7 linked regions of the Homo sapiens genome follow. The protein of the gene in region 1 purifies or fractionates together with the protein of each later gene. This does not show direct contact. Each region holds a gene or a part of one and is shown on either strand. Other genes may lie near its edges. The genes, in order: ADCY9, ALG5, SMIM20, SMTNL2, DNAJC18, TMEM143 and NFXL1.

Region 1 (3,500 bases):
GGCTATGGGACCACAGCCACCTGTTCAGCCTTGCTCAGCGTCAGCTCTTTGGTAAAAGGAGGATAATCATCAGCTTCCCTACAGCATTGCTATGAGCATTAAATGAGACGATATTTTGCCTTACGGGCCACCAACCAGCCAACTGCCAACTTGCAAGTCCACTCCGGGAGCCATGTCTGGGACATTAACGGATATTCACTGTCCCTTGGAGGCTGACGGAAGGGGGCACCTCCCACCCCACGAGGCATGAACTGGCTCTACTGGGCTCACCAGGGTCTCTCTAGAGCCCAAGCCAGGACACCACGGAGTTTAATGAAGACCTGCTGGAGGAACCAAGGGAATCAGAGTGAGAAATCCCTTTTGTTCCGGGTGGGGAGGGCATCCACTCTTGACTTGGGAACACTCAGAGGTTAGGTTTGGGCCCAGAGGAGAGAATGCAGTCTGGAAGCCGCCAGGATTCAAACCAGGCTCTAGGTTCTTGTATTATTCCTTCCAGCAACCCCCTAAGGAGCACTTGTGAGCGCTGGGACTCTGCTGGAGGCTGTGAGGAGGGGCTGGAGGAGAGAGATGGGTGTTGGGACTGTGCTGGAGGCTGTAAGGAGGGGCTGGAGGAGAGAGACGGGGGTCCTACCTCACAGAGCTGAGCATCTAGGGAGGGAGGAACACGAATCCAGAACCACACACGGAAAGATTCCAAAATGGGGCACACACGGAGAAGGAAGTGTATGAAGGGAAGTACAATCCAGTCTGCAGTCGGGGAGAGCTTCTTGGAGGAAGTGGGATTGGGTGATGGGCTGAGAAGTCAAGTACAAGGGGTTAAGGCGGTGGGGGCGGGAGAGGGAACATGGAGCCGGAGTTAGAGAGAGAGGTGAAGGCCTCCTGGGCCCTTCTCAGGGGAAGAAAGCAGGGAGGGCAACAGAGAAGAGTCTCACCCAAGACTCCAGGACAGGTGGGACGGGGGCTCTTCCAGGGCAGGTCGGTGGGGAGTTCCCTTCCAGGGCAGGTGGGGGGTTCCCTTCCAGGGCAGGTGTGGGGGATTCCCTTCCAGGGCAGGTGTGGGGGGTTCCCTTCCAGGGCAGGTGTCGGGGTTCCTTTCCAGGGCAGGTGGGGAGGGGTTCCTTTCCAGGGCAGGTGGGGGACCCCTTCCATGGCAGGTGGGGGGGGTTCCTTTACCAGGGCAGGTGTGGGGGCCCCTTCCAAGGCAGGTGGGGGGGTTTCCTTCCAGGGCAGGTTGGGGGTTTCCTTTCAGGACAGGTTGTGGTGGGGGGGCCCCTTCCAAGGCTGGGGATAGCCTGGAGATGCCACGGCAGAGGAAAGGGGCTAGTAATGGCGAGGCTGCGCTTTAAGACAAAGGACTAAAGAAAGGGTTTTTTTCCTCCTTTGCAAAGAGACATTTCATGTACAGTTGCCACTTAGGGTTTACAGAGTGTGGGAAATCAATGTTCGCCTTCGTGTTCCCATCCCTTGGTAAAGCACAAAACTAACAGTGAATGACCATGTGAGAACAACAAACACATTCTTTAGTAAAAGCGCAAGGAGAAATGAACGCACCTCTTCCTGATAGCTGGTCCTGTAGGATCGCTCCAGCTCCTGATCCAGGAAGTTCAGGCTGAACTGATTAATGGGCGGCTTAAAAAAGTAATCTTTCATCAGGCTAGAAGACACAACAAATGCAGTCGATCAATACCCAGCACCATAACTGTGCCAATGTTTTCAGATCATAATTAGCTACCAAAACGCTGCTCATTAGGTATATTACAACAGCTGCGTCTAAAAGCGCCTGTGGAACAGACGCCACTCAGCTGCCCCTTGTTAAAACAGATCTGTGGAAAGTCCTTCGCACCTCAAAGCATAATCATATTTTGTGTTTCACCTTCGTTAAAGAATGACCATCCACCATGATTATAGCACACATCATCAGAACCTTGGTTTTTTGGGGTTTTTTTTTTTTGAGGCAAGGTCTCACTCTGTCGCCCAGGCTGGAGTGCAATGGCGCAGCGATCTTGGCTCACTGCAATCTCCGCCTCCCAGGTTCAAGCAATTCTCCTGCCTCAGCCTCCTGAGTAGCTGGGATTACAGGCGCCTGCCACCGCACCCAGCTAATTTTTGTATTTTTTAGCAGACGCGGGGTTTCACCATGTTGGTCAGGCTGGTCTCGAACTCCTGGGCTCAAGAGATCCACCCATCTCGGCCTCCCAAAGTGCTGGGATGACAGCGTGAGCTGCTGAGGCTTGTTTTTGAAAACACATTCCTAATGTCTAGGATTAGGAGAAGATGAAGGCAGCTTTTCTGTTCTTTGAAACAATCTTTTGTGAAGAACACGCAGATCACTGTGCTGAGAGTACTTACATGGATTTGGAGGCTTCAAACGAAAACATAATTCAGAACCGGCGGTCCTGTCATTCAGAGCACTGACAGTAATTGCCACCGTAAAAGCTAACAGGTTGTTATCACAAAATTGTGTTTATAGTTAGCGTAATTTTGGTGCTATTGTCACATATGCAGATTGCATGTGAAACCTGCAGAATGATAAAGCTCAGTGATTTTAATAGCAGGGAAATCAACCCCGCTTTCCATGACTCTTTCATTCATTTATGAATTGCCAGCAAATAGTAATATCCTTTCTATACTGCAGAAAATTACTAGAAACTAAGGGAACGTTAACATGATTTCAGAAAGCAAATATAGCTGTGTTAGCCTCTCTCCCTCATACAGTGACTATCAGAAGTAAATTAGACGAGGCTGGGCGCGGTGGCTCATCCTTGTAATCCCCAGACCTTTGGGAGGCCGAGGCAAGCGGATCACCTGAGGTCAGGAGCTCGGGACCAGCCTGGCCAACATGGTGAACCCCCGTTTCTACAAAAAATACAAAAATTAGCCAGGCCTGGTGGCAGGTGCCTGTAATCCCAGCTACTCGGGTGGCTAAGGCAGGAGAATCACTTGAACCTGGGAGATGGAGGTTGCAATGAGCCAAGATGGCGCCACTGCATTACAGCCTGGGTGACACAGCAAGACTATGTCTCAAAAAAAAAAAAAAAGAGTAAATCAGGTGAAATATGTCAAGTGCCTCATGTGCCCCCCACACAAAGTACGGCTCATCACGTGTGTTCCTTCCTGTCCTTGCAGCACGGCGGACACTCTCCTTTCTGTGACAGGTATCCAGTAACTTCCAACATTCTCAGACTCAGAAGAGAAATAATTCTGTCCCAGGACACTGACCCTCTCTCCTCCCCTGACTCAGGGAGTGTGGACTGAGGGAAGAGCAACCACGCAGCTGCAGAGAGGATGTGCACAAGGCCACATTTTAGCAGTCAAGTGGCAGAAGCGACACTGCTATTAGCTGTGCTGCTCCATTTATTTCTTATTTGTTTTTTGAGATGGAGACTCGCTCTGTTGCCCAGGCTGGAGTTGCAGTGCTGCGATCTCAGCTCATTGCAGCCTCTGCCTCCTGGGTTCAAGCGATTCTCCTACCTCAGCCTCCTGAGTAGCTGGGATGACAG
Region 2 (2,552 bases), on another chromosome or scaffold:
TAAAAGTGTTTTTACTCCAAATGTCCACAGTCAATCCAGAGCCATTTAAAAACTATATCTGTACATATATCCAAAAGTATAAAGATCCCAACTCTATAATAACTTGAAATCTATCATAAATCTTAATAATTCCTATTTTAAAAGGCTTAGACAGCTCTGGCTGTATAGAATTTTAAACATATTCTAGTTTTCTCCTTACCTTAGAATGAACCTAAATTAATTCACAGTGTGGGAGCAGTTAACATAATCAACTGGAGACTTTTTCGAAGTCCAGCTCTTCTGGTGAGAGTCCTTGTTGCAGTAAACCATTATTGCTCTGTAACCTCAGATGTTTAGGGACAGAAAAAGGTTAAGAACCAATCTCGAGATTATACAAACTGTATAGTCTAGGATGAATTCAAACCTCTTTACATCTTGCTGAATCAAACTGAGTTTACAAAATCTTAGCTCATCTCCACAGTAGCTGCCTAGAATCAAAGGGGATTGGGAAGCAGGTCAAAGGATCACTCAGGGGTATCATGATCAACTTTGTTGATTTGTGTTGATCTTTGGCCAACCTAGACTCTATGGGAAGATGAGGTGGGGAAAAGTAAAAGTCCATTTTATGTTTAGTCATTTGCTTATTTGCATTACAGAGATAGTTGTCTTGTAATATGAATTGTAGGTACCTCAACTTCCTCATTTGTGGGATGAAGATAATTTTTGGCCCTGATAAACGATAATGTCTCTACAGTGCTTTGGTGGTAATGTTTTCAGAAGAAAGCTGTCATATAAATTCAGAGCAGTGAAAAAGGTCTTCTTTAAATATAAAGTATAATTAAAATGATAATGAAATGTTAAACCTTCCTCCTGATACTTTATCTGCACGTATATACTATAAGTAATGGTTATAAGAATCTGCTGTGGCTGGGTGCAGTCACTCATGCCTGTAATCCCAGCACTTTGGGAGCCTAAGTTGGGAGGATCACTTGAGCCTAGGAGTTTGAGACCAGCCTGGGCAACACAGTGAGACCTCATCTCTATAAAAAAATTGTAAAATTAGGCAGGTGTGGTGCGTGCCTCCTGTACTCCCAGCTACTGGGGAGGCTGAGGTAGGAGGACTGGATCGTTTGAGCCCGGGAGGTCAAGGTTACAGTGAGCCATAATCGTGTCACTGCACTACAGCCTGGGTGACAGAGCAAGATCTTGTTTAAAAAAAAAACAAAAAAAGAATCTGCTGTGATATGTGGATCAGATATTTAATTAGGCTGGTGTTCTTGTGTAGCCCGAGACAAAGAGGTCTGGACAAAATTATCTTAAGTCTGATCATAGGCTTTATTTTTTATCATTAAGATTGGATTTATGTAGAAATAATCATATTTATCTGTTGTGCTGTATCTTTAGTTGTTTCATATGTAATTATTTTCAGTAATGAGCACTCAGTGAGTAGTTTTTTTATTAGACTTCTAGAGCCCTCACCATATGTAGTCCTTCCTTTCTATAGTAGGGCCGTATGAAATTTTCACTATTTAGATCCTCTCAAGTTTCATTTCACTTCAAGATGTTCTGTTTTTGTTTTTAGAGAAAACCACTCCACTCACTTCAGCTTTGAAATTGTTTAACTTTTTGGTCCATGATTTAAAAAATTAAGGTGCTAAAGGCTCACAACGATCATGTAGACTGACTTTAAACTGATACGTTTTCTGCTGAGTTTATTTAAGCTAATTTGTTTTTAATTATTTTTAAATCACAGGTTCTAAATTAGTTCCATTCTGGAGCTGGCTACAAATGGGTAAAGACCTACTTTTTATACGACTTCGATATTTGACTGGTGCCTGGAGGCTTGAGCAAACTCGGAAAATGAATTAGGTTGTTTGCAGTCTTCAGTTGTGTTCTTATGCTTCAGTGTCACATTTCATTTCATTTGAAACTAAAATTTTAAGTAAAGCTGAAATAAACTTCTTGTCATTGTCTGCCTTTTGATAATTTTAAAGAAATAACTTTCCATAAGTAAAAAATTATATATCTCTTTGGATATAAATGATTTTTAAAAGATGTTTATTTAAAAAGTCAGATTTTCTTTTGTTTGTTTAGCTTCATTATCATTATAATTCTGAGAAACATAATTTTTGTAGACAGAAGCTATTCTTACCCTAAAGTGCCTGCATAACTCTCATGAACTTAACTATAAACTACAATCATGTAACAGTTTTCAGAGATTTAAAAATAAAGCTAGGGTATAAGTTTAAATGTACATAAATTTATCCAAATCAAAGAAACCTATTTCAGCCTATGAAACTTTAGGAAATTATATGTTAAAGGCAAGAATACAGACTTAGTCACAAAGGTGTTCATTTCCTTATAGTCTTACTCATCTCTAGCACTGGAGGCCAAGGTGGGAGGATCACCTGAGCCCAGAAGTTCAAGGTTACAGTGAGCTATGATCGTGCCACTGCACTCTAGCATGGATGATGGAGGGAGTTCCTGTCAATCAATTTTATAATATTAATATATTTACATAGTAACATCAGAAGCCTCTTTGAGATACTGCAAGAACTAATAGCAATTACAAA
Region 3 (3,046 bases), on another chromosome or scaffold:
GTGGCAAATAAAACACTGGGCAATGGGGATTATGGGAATCCTGATATCCAAGTCTAAGAGGGATGGAGAGAACACATAGGATACTCAGGCCTATTCCAGGCAACAAGCGGCCTGATGGTTTCACTGCTCCTCTCTGAAAAGTAGCGGATGAATGGCAACCAAGATTCTCTCAAGATATATCAAAAGATTTCTTCCATTTAGAGTGGATATTATGGAGCCTCTAAAGTGTTAGACTTTCTGAAATAACACAAAAGGTGTCCTCATTTCTTAAGACATTAAATCATTGTAGAACTGAGCCCCACCATCCTATAGACATGTAAGTCTCAAAGTATGGATGTCTCGAACATGCTCTTGGAAGATACCAACATGTAAAAGCCCACAGTCATCAGTCTTGGCAGGAACAAAAATAGAATTAATTTTCTGTATCTAACTAAAAGGTCTATTTTCTGATACTATGGAAGAGGGAAGATTTGAGTTTTAAAAAATCACTATCAGAAAGCATTCTAGACTTAGAGATTTCATAAAATCAGACATCCTGGTGTACCAAACACATTGTCCAGAGGCAGGTACTGCAAGGCAAAAGAAGCTGGCAGACTGCCAAGCATCAAAGGAAGCTGACTTTTGGTGGCAAGGACCGAATGCCTAATTGGGTTCTAACCTCTTATGATGCAACGGAGAACCAAATGAAAAGAAAGAAATCCCTGTCTTCACACTTTCTTGCTAATTGCTAATGAGGCTGAAGCAAGGCTGAAGATTTATTTTAAATAGACCATAATCTCTTTATAATCCTTGTCCTAATGCAAACACCTCTGTAGTTTGGCTTGGTCAGGAAATTTAAACCACTTTGCTGAGCCAGTTCCTACCAAATGATAACCAGGTATTAGCATCCTATCTACATCCCCTGGTTCTTTAATCCATTAATGTTTTATAAATACTCTAAGGCCAAAGCAGTCTTATGTAAATTCATGATGTAACACAAAGACACTTTATCTGTGAATGCAGAATACTCTAAAAGGAAAACAGAAACGAGTCCCTCACGATTTAGCAGTGCATCTTGATTGAGGTTGACAGTAAGCTTCTATTTCCCTATCTTTGGAAAAGAGCAAATGTATATAAACCTCAGGAAAAGGGAAATGGCAGAAGTCAGGGGTTTAACTATGTAAACAAATCAGGATAAACTTATTACCAATTTCACTAGTGAGCACATTTCTATCAGGAGTGAAATAATTTAAACCCAAATATGGCACACCGGGTTAAAAAACTCCCCACTCCAGTGTCTCAGCAAGCCCGACTCTGCCCCCTGGTGCTAAGGCAGTGGTGTGATTTGTAGTTTTAATTGAGGACGTTATCTCTGGTCCAGGGGCCAAAGTGTATTATTAAAACTAGTAATACATGCAGACCGGCTGATTTTTTGTACGATAGTAAAAGAATCTACCTAATAATGTTGAAGTCTTTAAAAACAAAAACATATCCTTATATTAAATGTCCACACCGGAAAATACATCGACTGTGTGACTTGTTACTTGAACATTCACAACAATGCAAACACTGCAGGATACTCAAGCCCCAGCTCCCTCAGCAGTCTCAGGATTATTCGTTGAGGGTGCTCTAGTGGAGGACCAGCAGACAGAAACCTAAAATAAAAAAGCAAATGAAAGCTGGTGCAAGGTATGACCTTGGGAACCTACCTCCCTATTTCTTCCTGCCAATAAATACTTAAAAGCAACTCTGCCGGGCGCAGTGGCTCACACCTGTAATCCTAGCACTTTGGGAGGCCGAGGCGGGTGGATCACCTGAGGTCAAGAGTTCAAGACCAGCCTGGCCAACGTGACGAAACCCCATCTCTACTAAAAATACAAAAATTAGCCAGGCATGGTGGCGGGCGCCTATAATCCCAGCTACTTGGGAGGCTAAGGCAGGAGAATTGCTTGAACCTGGGGGTCAGAGGTTGTAGTCAGCCAAGATCATGCCACTGCACTCGAGCCTGGGCGCAAGAGCAAAACTCTGTCTCAAAAAAGAAAAATAAAAAAATAAAATAAAATAAAAGCAACTCACAACTTGAATTGTGACAAATGGCAAAATTTGAACGTGGGCTGTATATTCCATACAAGTTGAATATCCCTTATCTGAAATTGGTTGAGAACAGAATTGGTTTGGATTTAGGATTTTTTTCAGATTTTGGAATATTTACATATATATATAACAAGATATCTTGGGGATGGGATCCAAGTCTAAACATTAAATTCATTTGTTTCACATACATCTTATATACATAGACTGAAGATAATTTTATACAATGTTTTTAATAATTTTGTGCATGAAACTAAATTTATATTAAGTACTTATGTGTGGTATTTTCCACTTGTGTCATTTTGGAACTCAAAAAATTCCAGATTTTGGAGCATTTTCCATTTTCAGATTAGAAATGCTCCAACTGTAATAGCACTGTATCAACGTTAAATTTCTTAGATTGGAAAACCGCATTGTGATTACATAAGAGAATGCCCTTGTTCTTCGGAAATACAGGCTGAAGTGTTTAGGAATGAAAGCTCACAATGTCTTTGACCTACTCTCAAATGGTTCAACAAAATAACAGTAATAATTATAATATATAGTACATATAACTATATCTGTATATATGTATGTATCTGTATGTTATATATAGGGGGAGAAAGCAAATGTGGCAAAATGTTAACAACTGGTAAATCAAGGTGAAGGACAATATAGGAATTTACTGCACTGTTCTTGGATCTTTTGTCAGTTTGAGTTTCTTTTGTTTATTTATTTATTTTTTGAGAAAGAGTCTTGCTCTGTCACCCAGGCTGGAGTACAGTGGCGTGATCTCGGCTCACTGCAACCTCTGCCTCCCAGGTTCAAGTGATTCTGCTGCCTCAGCCTCCCCAAGTTTGAGTTTCTTTTTTCACTAACAAAAACCACATAACTGTACAACATGCATACGAAAAGTCCAACACCATTTTGACTCTTCCATGGTGATTATTTCAAAGAAGCTATCTTTTAAAAAGTAGCAAATATAAAATTTTTTTCA
Region 4 (3,500 bases), on another chromosome or scaffold:
AAAGGGTCCCTTTATTAAACTCTCCTCGCCCAGTTCTTGACTGTGCCCCCGTCCGCCGCTGGAGCCCTGGCAGACAGACCTGACTTTGCCAACTCTCCTGAGGCCCTCGGCCAAAAACCAAATCCCGAACTGGCTTTCCAGGTGCCTCCTGACCCCAGAGCCACCCCCAAATCTTCACCCTAGAGGTGGGACCTAAGAAGCTAGGCAATTTCACAATAAATGCCAGAACACCATTTCGGGAAGGAAAATCTTATTGGAAGCAAAAATCTCCTTTTAAGTGGCCCAGGTCATATCCAGTTCCTTGCTAACTGGCAGCTGTGGCTCATGCAAGCAACGGCATCTCTCCATCAGTCCAGAGAGGACAGATTCAGAGCTTTGGGGGACCCTGTCCTGCTGCCCTTCATGCCTGGTCTGTGGCTGGTCTCCCAGAGTGCACCTCAGAAGCTGGGCACCTAGCAAAAAGGGCAGGTCCCCAGGAACGGAGTCCCCCTCCACCACTGAGTGCTGTGTGACTCTGGGAAAATCCCTCTCCAGGCCTCAGTCTTCCCATCTGCACAAGAGGTACACAGACCACATGGCCCCAGGGTCCTTCAGCTTTGCAGACAGCGGCCCGACATCCCACTCGCCCCCATGCCCCACCTGGGGAAGAAGTTGGGCTCAGGGACTGGGCTGGGGCTGGTAGCCAGCAGGAGCCACCATACTCACTCGGCCATGGTGAAAGCCAGCTCGAAGTTCTTCTGCCTCTGCGTGGGGCTCAGGGAGTTGTAGTCAAAGGCATCGGGGAAGAAGGAGTGTACCAGGGCGCAGAAGGCCATGCCGTCGCTCCAGCTGGAGGAGAAGTTCTGCAGGTCCACGTGCTGCAACAGGGTGAGTGGGGTCAGTGCGGGAGGGCAGCTGGGCACCCACTCGGAAGGCATAATTACCGTGGTTCCTACCCCTTAACCCCAGCCTCAGCGGGCTCCTGCCCAGGCGGGAGAACAAGGACAGGGGCGACGCTTGGTCAAGCTTTTAGCTGGGGCGTCCCAGCAGCCGGAGGGGAGCCGGGGCTCACCTGGTAGCCCAGCGTCTTGCTGCGGCACCACTCGAGCAGGATCTGCTTGATGCTGCTGGCGCTGGCCACGCCGAAGCTCTGCGACCGCTTCAGCCTGGCCCGGGCCTCGCCTTTCCCCCTGCGGAGAGACGGCAGGCCTGCTGCGGGGGCCCCTCCAGCTGCCATCTCCCAGTGCGGGTCTGGGGCAGGGGAGGCTGTCCTGGCACCACCAAGGAGGGTGCTCCCACCTGCTCTGCTCACCCAGGGGAGATGCTGGTGGCACACGTGGGCTCAGCTGTGCCCACGTCCACGGCACAGCCCATGTACCAGCGACACAGCCTCCTTTGATGGTATGTGGCAGGACCGTCCACACCCCTACAGCCCTCCAGGTCCCCTGTTTATTCCCCATCCAGGAAGCAGGGGTCACCTGGGAATCCTGAGACAGAAGACCTTGGCTCACATGGCCCTGGGCCCCTGCCTTCTGCTTTGGAACACCTTTCCCAGCTCCTTCCTCCCACTCCTCCTTCTGAGCTCCCCTCTTAATGGGGTGCCTCCTTCCCTGATGGCTCTTTCCTAGCCAGGAGGGATGAGTTCCTCTTCTGGGCCCCAAGGACAGTCCCTAATGGCCTAGGCCAGGTTGTTTGGGGCCAGTGGGGAGATGTCCGGGGTCGGTCCCCCTCACTAGAGTCGAGCAGGGACTGGCTGTCGTCTTCATTATCCCACAAGGCCTGGGCCACACCCTGCACACAGCAGGCATCAATACCACGCTTGGGCCACACTCTGCACACAGCAGGCATCAATACCACGCTTGGGCCACACCCTGCACACAGCAGGCATCAATACCACGCTTGGGCCACACCCTGCACACAGCAGACATCAATACCACGCTTGGGCCACACCCTGCACACAGCAGGCATCAATACCACGCGTGGGCCACACCCTGCACACAGCAGACATCAATACCACGCTTGGGCCACACCCTGCACACAGCAGGCATCAATACCACGCGTGGGCCACACCCTGCACACAGCAGACATCAATACCACGCTTGGGCCACACCCTGCACACAGCAGACATCAATACCACGCTTGGGCCACACTCTGCACACAGCAGGCATCAATACCATGCACTGACACGAGGACTGGCTGAATATGCAAAGGTGGGCTGGAGCCTGAGGAGCCGTCGCTCGAGACCTAGTAGCAGGCTGGAGGCCACTCGGCCCCGTGGCATCACCTTCGGTCCTTGGGCAAGACCAACCCCATGCTGGGGCTCCCAGCTCTGGCCAGGAATCCCAGTCCCCATCCAGTCCCCGGTCATGCCCAGAAACCAGAGGAGCCACAACCCCTGGGGAATGTGGGTGTGAGGGCAGCCTGGCGGCACCAGAGACAGGACAGGGGGCCTCGGGAATGGAGGAGGAGAGAGGGGCTCTCACCAAGCCTTCCTGGCTCCCTGCCTCACAGCCATCTCCCCCAACAACTGGGGTCCTCTGTCCCCCCAAGCTGCCCTGTGGCCCAGCCCTAACTTTGTGCCTTGCCCAAGAGATCTTGTCCTGGGCAACAGCGCCCTGGGGAACAGGACAGGGCTGAACCTTGCCCTGCTGCACCCACCCAAGCCCCGTCTGGGTCTGGGCACACCGTGGGGCCGGGCCTGTCTGTGAGTGGGCATCCGTACTTGCCGGCCGCCGTTTCCTGCTCCCACTTCTCAAACAATGCTTTCCGGGCCTGCGCCTCCGAGGTGCGGGGCAGCGTCTGCGACCTCACCAGCTCCCTGCGACGCTCCCCCTGCCGATGGACCTGAGTTATGGCTGGCGGCTGCGGGGACACGGGCGACTGGGGTGGTGTCACCAGCGGTGGGCTGAGGAAAGAATCGCCGAGTTGGGACCTGGGCCCAGCAGCCATCACTAGCTCACCAGGCCCCAAGGTCTCCATTGCACTGAGTGTGGACAAGGCAGCCTGCACCGTGATGGGCGCTCAGAGAAGAGGCCCCCTTGCTCCGGTCCCTAGCTGGTTTGACAGGTTTTCTGAATTGTGCTGGCTGGAGGGACTGGCCAATAGGCTCAACTCAGGAGACGCTGGGCCCGATCTGGACATAACCACCCCTTTGCAGGTGTCAATGCCTGGGGAGGACAGAGGGACCCCCTCCTCAGGCAGGAGGTGTGCTCAGAACCAGCCCCGGAGGGACCAGGCCTCCTGCCTCCACCACCATGCGATAAGACCCCCTTTGTTTTCCCCAGAACGGTTTGCCAGAAAGTCACAATTCTCCTTTTATTATTAAAGAAAAAAAAAAAAGCCAAGCCTGCTACCCTACCCCCATCCCCAATCACAGTCCCGCTGGCTGGCTGGGGGGAGGCCTGTGCCACAGGGAAGGACCTGCTCACCTGCCCCTGCTCGCAGCCCGTGGGCAGGAAGTTCCGGGCTCTGAGGGACCCCAGCTGGCTGGGATGGAAGAAGACAAAGCTCCTGTCCTCTCC
Region 5 (3,500 bases), on another chromosome or scaffold:
TCTCCAGCCCCCAGCTGTGCATAATTTTGACCAAATCATTTAGTCTCTCTGACCCTGTTTCCTCTCCTGAAAAATGGGGCTGTTAATAATACCTACTTCACAGGGTCACTGTGAGGATTAGATATTTTTAAGTGCCTTATAAATAAGTAACAAAATGCCTATTATTGTTGTGTAAAATAGCACTTACAAAGATAGAAGATAGGAAAGTACCCCCCAGCAAGTTGGAAGTTGGTATAATTCAATGCCCAGGAAGTAAATTGAATTTTATGAGTTGCTATTAAAAGATACCAGTGACACAATATGGTATTGGGCACGGAAGCAGACGTGAACATGCCAGATAGGATTCACGGCCCTAATGCTCTCTCTCTTCTAGCCTTTCGGGGTTCTCTCTCACTAGTTGCAAAGGACTATTTAAATGAAGTCAGGAGAGCTCAGCACGCTTTAGCTCCAGCTGGTTCACTTGGCTTGCCTATTGTCTTATTTTTCTACTGGGTAAAATAGGCCAATACTCTATCCTTAACAAACCTAGCTGGGAACAAGGACCTTGAAAAAGGCAAGGAAGGGTCAGGCGCGGTAGCTTACGCCTGTAATCCCAACACTTTGGGAGGCCAAGGTAGGTGGATCACTTGAGTTCAAGAGTTCGAGACCAGCCTGGCCAACATGGTGAAACCCCATCTCTACTAAAAATACAAAAGTTAGCCAGGCATGGTGGCGGGTGCCTGTAATCCCAGCTACTGAGGATGCTGAGGCAGGAGAATCGCTTGAACCCAGGAAGCAGAGGTTGCAGTGAGCCGAGATCACCCCATTGCACTCCAGTCTGGGTAACAGAGCAAAACTCCATCTCCAAAAAAAAAAGAAAAAGGCAGGGAAGGAGTGTTTGCCATATCCCATACCATGTATTTCTTTTCCAGGAAATATTCATATGTTTTCAAATGTGACAGATGACACTTACTATTACCGTCGACGGCACCGACATGAGAGGACACAGACTCAGAAGGAGGAGGAAGAAGAGAAACCTCAGGTACCTAGGGAGGGAGGAGCACTGCTGCCCATAAACAGTTGTACTTGGCCAACCTTGATGGTACATGGTCAAGTTTTAGAAGTTGAACCTGAGATATGTTGCTTTAGGAAAGATGTGCTTTAGGAAAGCAAAAGCAATGGTTAGAAGAGCTGGAAAATTGGCCTAAATAGGCAGAATGGTATCCCCTCCCTCTGCCCATTCTTGGGTGGCTCTCCCAGAATCTCAGCAATCTGTGGGGCTGACTTCATCAAGGCTTTTTTTTTTTTTTTTTTTTTTTTTTTTTTTTTGAGAGAGGGTCTCACTGTCACTCAGGCCGGAGTACAATAGTAGAAACACAGCTCACTACAGCCTCAAACTCCAGGGCTCAACCAATCCTCCCACCTCAGCCTCTCATGTAGCTGGGACTATAGGTGCGTGCCACCATGCCCAGCTCATTTTTTGTAGAGATTATTTCTCACCATGTTTCCCAGGCTGGTCACAAACTCCTGGGCTCAAGTGATCCTCCTGCCTTGGCTTCCCAAAGTGCTAGGATTACAGGCATGAGCCACCGCTCCGGCTTCATAATTTTCTTGGCTGCAGAAAATAGGAATCCTCTTCAAAATATTTAGAACTAAAGGGGGTTTAAGGTAAGGGATCAAAAGAGTCTCATGAAGCTCAAGGACAAGAAGCACAGCTGGGCCTCATGACAGACAGGAACAAGGAACTGGGATACTGTCAGGCTCCCAAGCAGCTGTGCTCTGCAGGACTCTTTGGGCCCAGATTGTCTCCAGTTTTCCTGCCACTCTTTGCCTCTGTTTTGTTTTCACCAAGCAGCTTTGCTTGTTCTACTTCCCCTTGCAAATAGCCAGTCTACAGTGCCTGAGAGTGTGTGTTCTTCCTTAAAGTGATGACCCAGAAGTGAAGGGTGATGAGTTTCAACCCCAAATTCCTAGGAGAGAAAACGTGATTACCTCTGCCAGAGTTGGATGTCCCCTGAGTCCAATCAGCTGTGGCCAAGCATGATGCTAACCTGGCTCCTAGAGCCCCACTACTGTAAGAGGCACAGTCTGGGCAGGTTTACCTAGAGATGTTTGCTTCATTGGTCTTATTAATGGGGCTGCAGGGGGATTACTGGGTGTCAATCCAGGTTGTTGTTGGACCTCCTTCAGCCTGCTCAGCAGAGAGAGTAAAGGTTATTTGGTATAGATTGAGTATCCCTTATCTGAAGTAAATTGGACCAGTAGTATTTCAGATTTCAGATTTTTTTTTTTTTTTGGATTTTGGAAATTTGCATTATACCATTATATATTTGACAATTCCTAATCTGAAAATCTGAGGCTGGGTGCTATGGCTCACACCTGTAATCCTAACACTTTGGGGGAACTGAGGCAGGAGAATTGCTTGAGCCTAGGAGTTTGAGATTAGCCTGGGCAACATGGCAAGACCTTGTCTCTACAAAAATTTAAAAATTAGCTGGACACGGTGGTGTGCACCTGTGGTCCCAGCTTCTCAGGAGGCTGAGGCGAGAGAATCATCAGAACCCAGGAGGTCAAGGCTGCAGTGAGCCATGTTTGTGTCACTGTACTCTAGCCTGGGTGACAGAGCAAGACCATGTCTCAGAAAAAAAAAAAAAAAGGAAATCCAAAATGCTCCAATGAGCATTTCCTTTAAGTGTCATCCTGGTACTCAAAAAGTTCTAGATTTTGGAGCATTTGTGATTTTGAATTTTCTGATTAGGACTGCCCAACCTGTACTTCTCAGCTGAAAGTACAGCCTTCCCAGAAAAGCCTGGGGCTTTGTGGATCCTCCTATGCAGTGCATTGATAATTTGTTATTTTCTTTGGAGCAACTATCTTATTTTCAATAAGCTTTATATTGATAAAGAACACTTACAGGCCAGGCGCAGTGGCTCACACCTGTAATCCCAGCACTCTGGGAGGCCGAGGTGGGCAGATCACGAGGTCAGGAGATCGAGACCATCCTGGCTGCGGTGAAACCCTGTCTCTACTAAAAATACAAAAACTAAGCCGGGCGTGGTGGCGGGTGCCTGTAGTCCCAGCTACTCGGGAGGCTGAGGCAGGAGAATGGCGTGAACCCGAGAGGCGGAGCTTGCAGTGAGCCGAGATCGCACCACTGCACTCCAGCCTGGGCGACAGAAAAAAAAAAAAGAACACTTACAGCAAGTTTTTATTTTTTTTTCTTTTTCAGACTACATATTCTGCATTTATTCAGCTACTTCCAGTTCTTGTGATTGTGATTATATCTGTCATTACTCAGCTGCTGGCTACTAATCCCCCATATAGTCTGTTCTATAAATCGTAAGTCTGGTATTTCTAAATCTTTCTCAGTAACAGTCTGGGGGTGAAAGACTTGAAGGTTTTGCTGATACATTACTAACATTTCATTTCACCTTTTGCTGTAGAAAACACCGATTTGATGTTTAAAGGAACAGCTGGGTAGTCATGGTGCTGAGACTCAAAAATACTGAGGCAGTCTCCTG
Region 6 (3,500 bases), on another chromosome or scaffold:
CTTGAGCCCGGGAAGTGGAGGTTGCAGTGAGCCAGGATTGCGCCACTGCACTCCAGCCTGGGCAACAGAGTGGGACTCTGTCTCAAAAAAATAAATAAATAAAAATACAAAAATTAGTCAGGTGTGTGTCATGTGCCTGTAATTCCCGCTACTCAGGAGGCTGAGGCAAGAGAATCTCTTGAACCCGGGAGGCAGAAGTTGCAGTGAGCCGAGATCGTGCCACGGCACTTTAGCCTGGGCGACAGAGTGACACTGTGTCTCAAAAAAAAAAGCGGTCGGGCGCAGTAGCTCACGCCTGTAATCCCAGCACTTTGGGAGGCCGAGGCGGGTGGATCACGAGGTCAGAAGATCAAGACCACGAGGTCAGGAGATCGAGACCATCCTGGCTAACACGGTGAAACCCTGTATCTACTAAAAATACAAAAACAAAATTAGCTGGGCGTGGTGGTGGGTGCCTGTAGTCCCAGCTACTCAGGAGGCTGAGGCAGGAGAATGGCGTGAACCTGGGAGGCGGAGCTTGCAGTGAGCTGAGATCGCACCACTGCACTCCAGCCTGGGTGACAGAGCAAGACTCAGTCTCACAAAAAAAAAAAAGAAAAAAGAAAAAAAAGAAAACCTGTACCTGTACCCAGATTCCTCCATTCAGCCACAAAATGAGCTCAGGGCCACTGGACCCTGTAGCTGGCAGGCCTGGCTGCCTGACCCACTAAACCCTTACCGGCTGCCCCTGGTAAGACCTAAGTCCTCAGTCAGCACTGTCTGTACAACAATGCCAATGCCAGGGAGGGTTCAGGAAGTCAATACACGGTTAATAAAACATTGGGACAGCCGGGCGCGGTGGCTCACGCCTGTAATCCCAGCACTTTGGGAGGCCGAGGCGGGCGGATCACGAGGTCAGGAGTTCAAGACCAGCCTGGCCAACATAGTGAAACCCCGTCTCTACTAAAAATACAAAAAATTAGCCAGGCATGGTGGCGGCGCCTGTAATCCCAGCCACTTGGGAGGCTGAGGCAGGAGAATGGCTTGAACCCAGGAGGCAGAGGTTGCAGTGAGCTGAGGTTGCACCACTGCACTCCAGCCTGGGGGACAGAGCGAGACTCCATCTCAAAAAAAGAAGAAAAAAAAAAAACATTGGGACAAAGCCTGGCCCCTCAGAAACACTTACCAAACATCAGCTACTATGGAACAGTCACCCACACCCTGTGCTGGGTGCCCATAGGGTGTTCCCATCTCACACCGAGGCCTGAGGTGAAATGCCTCTCAAGTCAGCGCACCCCAGAAAATCGCTGAAATGGCCTGCAAGGTACCAATGACACGCTTGCATGTGGACTGTACCCTCTTCTCACCAGGCCAGCACAGTCAGTTTAGGTGCCTGCATTGGAACGAATCGCCATTTCTTCGGTTGAGGGCAAGATGCAGGAATAGCATGCGTTAGGGACCGTGTGGTATGAAAAACACATTGGGTTTGTGTCAGTATCTGCCAAGCCGATGGAGCTGAATTCTAGTTAAAGGAGCAGGTCACTCTGTGGCACACAGATGAAGCCAGAGTCTCCCTGGAGAGGGGTCCCCCTGCCACCCGGAGGGTCCCTTCAGCACTACCGCTGCCCACAAGGAATACAGCACTCGCTCCTCCTACCCTGGGGTCTATGTCTTGGGCAGCCCCTCCACCTACTCAGTCACAGGCCAGGCCCCTGGCACCATCCTTGCTCCCCCTTCGCCAACCTGTCAGTCCCAACCCCATTCTGCAGTCCCCTGACTCTCTCTGCCCGTCTCCTCCTCTGCAGCTCCCCAGCTCATCCTTGGCTCAGACTTTATCCCCGCCTGCATCACTCCAGCCTCCTCCCTGGCCTCAGTCTCCCCGTCCAGTTTGTCTGCACATAGGTTCAGAGCTGCCCCTGCCCCTCCCCTGCTCATGGTCCTCCCATGGCTCCCCAGTGCTCTCAGAGTCCAAGCTCCGTGGCCCGGCACACGAGGCCCTCCCTGTCACCTCCTGCTCCTCCCCTGTGAATGCAGCGCATGCTGAAAAAGCCGGTTTACCCTGAACAGGTCCTGCTCTCTCAGGCCTCCAGGCCCAGGCACAAGCCAAACCACCCCTGGTGTGTTCTTGGAAAATGTTCACTGCCTCATCCTCAAGGCTCAGGATGGACATCACCTCTCGCGGACGAGCAGATGCAGCCTCGGGCTCCTGCTGTGCCAGCTGCCGCCTCCATTACAGACCGACTGCCTGTGTCCAGGGACCCCACACCTCTCCCTCCAGGGCAGGATCGGGCTGCTGCATCTCAGGGGCACCAGTTCAACATCCCTCCCCAGGCTGCCCCATGGGCCTGCTTGGTGCTGGGCTAAGGGGCTTCACAGTAGAGCCCAGGGTATGGAGGAACCCACAGGGGCACCACCCCAGCCTGGGACATCCGGGAAGGCTTCCCAGAGCAGGCAGCCTCTGAGCTGAGGGTGAGGGGTGAGCAGGGGTTGGCCAGCCCAACAAGAGGAAAGGGCATTTCAGTCCAAGGGAACAGCACAGGCAAAGGCAGAGAACGAGGGATGGCAGGGTGGGGGCGCCGCAAGCATGCAGGAGGAGCTGAGGCGCAGATTCGAGGGGAAGGATTGTGTCCAGTGAGGCTGGGAAGCAGGGTCCCTGGTGCCAGGCTGTGCCCAGAGGAGGGGCAGGGCAGGACTGGGTAGAATGGGGAATGGGCTGGAAGGGACCAACTGGAGGCTGGGAAGAGGGCCTGAGCAGGGGGCACAGAGGTGGGACAGGAAGGGTGGGCTGGGGGTCTAGCCAGTGACTGGCGGGATGACAGGTCATCCTTAGATGCGGAGCCCAGAAGAGAAGATGTCAGGGGAGACGCTGTGCTTGGCCTACAGTGAGAGTGAGGGCCCCAGCCGGGAGGCTGAGCCTGGAGCTTCTTGGTTGATCTGATCATGGACAGTAGAGAGCTCCTGTGGAAACCACAGAAGCAGAGCAGCCCTGTGTCTTGGAAGAAAGAGGGCCCCATACTCCGCATCCCGCACCTTGCTCCCCGCACCCCTTATCCCGCAGTGGGGCTCTGAGTGCCTGTTCCAAGGTGAGATGGGGAACTTGAGAGGAGCAGGAGGGTTGAGGCAGCTGGACTCTGGGCTCATGGGGACACGCTGCACATGGGCTTGGGTGTGTCCAGGGAACAGGAGAAGCCAGATTAGGGGACTAGGGGAGGGGCTTGCAATGAAGACAGAGATCTGGGAGCAACTGAAGCGCAGGAGGGGACCAGCCAGGAGGGAGTCTGGGAGGGCCAACTGTTTTTTTGTTTCTTTGTTTGTTTGTTTGTGTTGGGATGGGAGTCTCGCTCTGTCACCGAGGCTGGAATGCAGTGGCGCAATCTCAGCTCACTGCAACCTCCACCTCCCGAGTTCAAGTGATTCTCCTGCCTCAGCCTCTCAAGTAGCTGGGATTTCAGGCATGCGCCACCACGCCTGGCTAATTTTTGTATTTTTAGTAGAGATGGGGTTTCACTACGTTGGCCAGG
Region 7 (3,500 bases), on another chromosome or scaffold:
TGGCAAAAATATAAAAAAACAAAATCAAAGAAATCTTTAAAGCAGGCTATAAAGTTCGCTCCAAGAGGTTCTGTCATCATCTTAAGGGCTTTCTTCCACTCTAGTTTTCCCAGTAAGGAACTCTATCAGAAATGAAATAATAAAGGAAGAAGAGTTTTCAATGAAGAAATGAATATCTTAAAGAGACTGTTGCCTAGGTGTCAGGACCAAGCAAAACATGGACCGGGAGTTAACCTGATAAAAAAAAGATTAAAGATGGACAATATCCTGGCTTAAGTGCCTCTAGAAGTTCAAAATAGTTCCCTAAAACAAACACAAATTAAGAATTATAATTCAAATAATGAACACAGAAAAAGAGAAGATTAGAGGTAAAACATCGTAGGGTCAAACATAACATTTATTATACAAAACACCAAATGTGTTTTGACACATATATTCTTGATGTTAATGCAAGTCAAGTTATCCTAACCCACATATCAAGTTTTATTTTTATTTTACCTAAAGAATGACTACAAGTTGTATTTTTAAAGTTGATAGTGATATTTAAGTCGGTTCTCATTCGGCATATTATATCTGTTTCTATACTTAACAATGACAATTTTTCATTCATCTTCAGCAGAGGAACCTTTTTGTTATCAAACGTAACCTTTTTGTTATTCTAAACAACAGTATCACATTTAAATTACATCTTGAAAATAAGGGACAATTTCTCTAAACAGTCTCCCTACTGACCAACAGAATTTATTATAATTAAAAGAGCTTCCATAATACTTTCAAAATGAAGAAATAGCATAGGGAGACTATAACTATACTGACCAATACCAGTTAATAGCCAAAATAGGCATGATTCGGGTAGTTCTAAAACTATAAACACAGATGATCCTGAATTTAAAAAAAAAAACTATAAATCGGCTGGGCGCTGTGGCTCATGCCTGTAATCCCAGCACTTTGGGAGGCCGAAGCAGGCAGATCACGAGGTCAGGAGATCGAGACCATCCTAGCCAACATGGTGAAACCCCGGCTCTACTAAAAATACAAAAATTAGCTGGACATGGTGGCATATGCCTGTGATGCCAGCTGCTCGGGAGGCTGAGGCAGGAGAATCACCTGAAATGGGGAGTCAGAGGTTGCAGTGAGCCGGGATTGCGCCACTGCACTCCAGCCTGGTGACAGAGAGAGACTCCGTCTCAAAGAACAAAACAAAACTATAAATCAAATTTTCACATACCCACAACACAAACATGCAGTTAGTATATTCCCCCTATAAATTACTGTATAATTCTGATTATGAAGGATTCTAGAATGATGGAAAAATGGTATGAAATTATGATTCCACATTCTTTTATAACTGTAGATGAAACAAATATTGACAGTTGCACAACAGCATCTTCCACATACTTTACATCAAGGAAAATTTTGTTGTGACTAATAAGCTTTTCTAAGGATTAATAGAAATCTATAAAAACAAAACAAACAAAAAAACACCACTCTACCAAAAAATATCAAAACCTGAATCTGATCAAACCTCTAGATCCAATTAACAGGTTATCAAAAATATAGAGGACAGAGGAACATGTTAAATAATACCACAGAGATGCAATCTGCAAAACTCAGACTCTGAGAAACTAAATAAAGCAACCTAGTTTCTTCAACAAATAAGTCATAAGGGGAAAAAAGGAGATAGAGGATGGAAATTATAAATTAAAAGACTTTAGAGACAAAACCAATTACAACATGTCAATTTTATTAGGTTTTTGAGTCTATAAACTGATGTAAAAAATGAAGTTACTTATGAGACAACAAGAAATTTGAAAACCAGATGTTTGCTGATATGAAGAAATATGTTAACTACATTTAGGTTAAGAATCCATCTTTTAGAGACAAATACTGAAATATTTATGGGCTTTGCTTCACAAAAATATGAGACAGGGAAATGCTTCCAACACTTCTCCAGTAAGTATGATATTTGCTCTAAACTTTTTGCAGATACTCTTTATCAGGTTAAGGATATGTCTATTTCCAATTAAATTTTTATCTTATATAGATGTTAGACATTTATCAAGATGATCTCATTCCTCCTTTGGTCTTTTAATGTGGTAAATTACATAATATTAGATTTACTACTGTTAAACCAGTTATATCACAGAGATGTAGTTTGCAAAAATCTGCAAAAACTCAATGGGTCAGTGATGTAATGACTATAAAAGAAAATAAAATCTTTCTAGTGTTGGTGAGAGCATACCTGAAAAACTATTTCTAAACTTCACTGACAAATCAAAGAACACCTACAGGAAATGTCTACAGGGTAAATAGAATCTGACACTTTTCCTAATGGGGAAGGAATGTAGTATAATGGAAATAACATAAACACTGGGTTCACATCCTGACTCTGCGACTAGTTCTATTAACCTTGGGCCAATAGTCTCCCGGCCTGTTCCACATATCCCTATATGCTGCAGGATTTCTGAAAGGATAGGGAGATCAACTGAGAAACAGTTCAGTAGTTTGTTCTAGGTATTAAACTACTAAATGGCAGAGTCTAGGCTTAAATCCAGGATTTCTTACTCTAAGTCCACGATCTTTCCAATACTGTATACCATATCTCAGTAGATTCCATTTCATATCAACATAATCCAAATGAGTGAAGTTAACTCAGTTTTTAATGTCTAGTAATAACTTATAACATAATTCTCAAAGTATAGTCCAGGAACCCTAGTGGTTCTTGAGACCCTTTCAGGAGGTCTGCAAGGTCTCACATGCATAGTTTTCCAGAAGCTAGTGAAAAGTGATGTCCATAGCAGACTGAATACAGAAGCATATATGTGAATCCGGCTATTTTCTGTTAAGCTAGACATTAAAGACATTTGTAAAAATGTAAAATTTTCTACTTTTTTCAGAAAATAGTTATTTTTCATAAAACATTATTTGTATTAAGATATAATGGGTTTATTACTGCTATTTTTAAAAAATAATAAATATTATTACATTTTATTTTAATTTCAAATACAATAAATGTCAATGAATAAAACTCACATTAACAAAAGCCCTTTGGGGACCAAAGGATTGTAAAGGGGTCATGACATCAAAATGTTTAAAAATCACCAGCTTCGGACATATCTAATCCTTTACTAGATTTAACTACAAATAAGTATATAAAATTCAGAATAAATAAGGTGTTCAAAATGCTATGAACACCTTCATTGATTAAAAAATTATGTGGGGAAAGTCAGGAAGTGGGAAAACAATATGGTGTTATAGAAAGGACAATACTTTTATATACAGAAATCCTGGGTTCAAATGTACTAGACATTTCCCTGAGTAAGTTACTGAACCCTCTTAAGCTTCAACCTCTTTGCCTATAAAATAGAGACACTGGCAAACTGCCTTACCTTCTTCTCCAGGTTAAGAGAGTCAAGTGAGATAATGACTATAAAACGCTATTTCAATACATTATATTGAATATTGACAATGAAAAAAAAAACCACTACATCACTACAAAC

What was found.
Region 2: the proteins of ADCY9 (region 1) and ALG5 purify together in Homo sapiens (co-immunoprecipitation; 2 studies listed by BioGRID and IntAct, with this or other methods). This does not show direct contact.
Region 3: the proteins of ADCY9 (region 1) and SMIM20 purify together in Homo sapiens (co-immunoprecipitation; one large-scale study listed by IntAct). This does not show direct contact.
Region 4: the proteins of ADCY9 (region 1) and SMTNL2 purify together in Homo sapiens (co-immunoprecipitation; one large-scale study listed by IntAct). This does not show direct contact.
Region 5: the proteins of ADCY9 (region 1) and DNAJC18 purify together in Homo sapiens (affinity purification with mass spectrometry; one large-scale study listed by BioGRID and IntAct). This does not show direct contact.
Region 6: the proteins of ADCY9 (region 1) and TMEM143 purify together in Homo sapiens (affinity purification with mass spectrometry; one large-scale study listed by BioGRID and IntAct). This does not show direct contact.
Region 7: the proteins of ADCY9 (region 1) and NFXL1 purify together in Homo sapiens (co-immunoprecipitation; one large-scale study listed by IntAct). This does not show direct contact.

The regions. Positions count from the first base shown.
Region 1 is NC_000016.10:3,987,443-3,990,942, forward strand, and holds part of ADCY9 (adenylate cyclase type 9), read right to left. Parts: intron 1,655-3,500; coding exon 1,552-1,654; intron 1-1,551. UniProt on the Homo sapiens protein: Adenylyl cyclase that catalyzes the formation of the signaling molecule cAMP in response to activation of G protein-coupled receptors.
Region 2 is NC_000013.11:36,949,238-36,951,789, reverse strand, and holds the end of ALG5 (dolichyl-phosphate beta-glucosyltransferase), read left to right. Parts: intron 1-1,732; coding exon 1,733-1,848; 3' UTR 1,849-2,052; downstream 2,053-2,552. UniProt on the Homo sapiens protein: Dolichyl-phosphate beta-glucosyltransferase that operates in the biosynthetic pathway of dolichol-linked oligosaccharides, the glycan precursors employed in protein asparagine (N)-glycosylation.
Region 3 is NC_000004.12:25,924,220-25,927,265, reverse strand, and holds part of SMIM20 (small integral membrane protein 20), read right to left. Parts: intron 1-3,046.
Region 4 is NC_000017.11:4,594,529-4,598,028, reverse strand, and holds part of SMTNL2 (smoothelin-like protein 2), read right to left. Parts: intron 2,885-3,500; coding exon 2,702-2,884; intron 1,170-2,701; coding exon 1,052-1,169; intron 858-1,051; coding exon 706-857; intron 1-705.
Region 5 is NC_000005.10:139,422,526-139,426,025, reverse strand, and holds part of DNAJC18 (dnaJ homolog subfamily C member 18), read left to right. Parts: intron 1-911; coding exon 912-1,021; intron 1,022-3,208; coding exon 3,209-3,318; intron 3,319-3,500.
Region 6 is NC_000019.10:48,336,441-48,339,940, forward strand, and holds part of TMEM143 (transmembrane protein 143), read right to left. Parts: intron 1-3,500.
Region 7 is NC_000004.12:47,887,084-47,890,583, forward strand, and holds part of NFXL1 (NF-X1-type zinc finger protein NFXL1), read right to left. Parts: intron 1-3,500.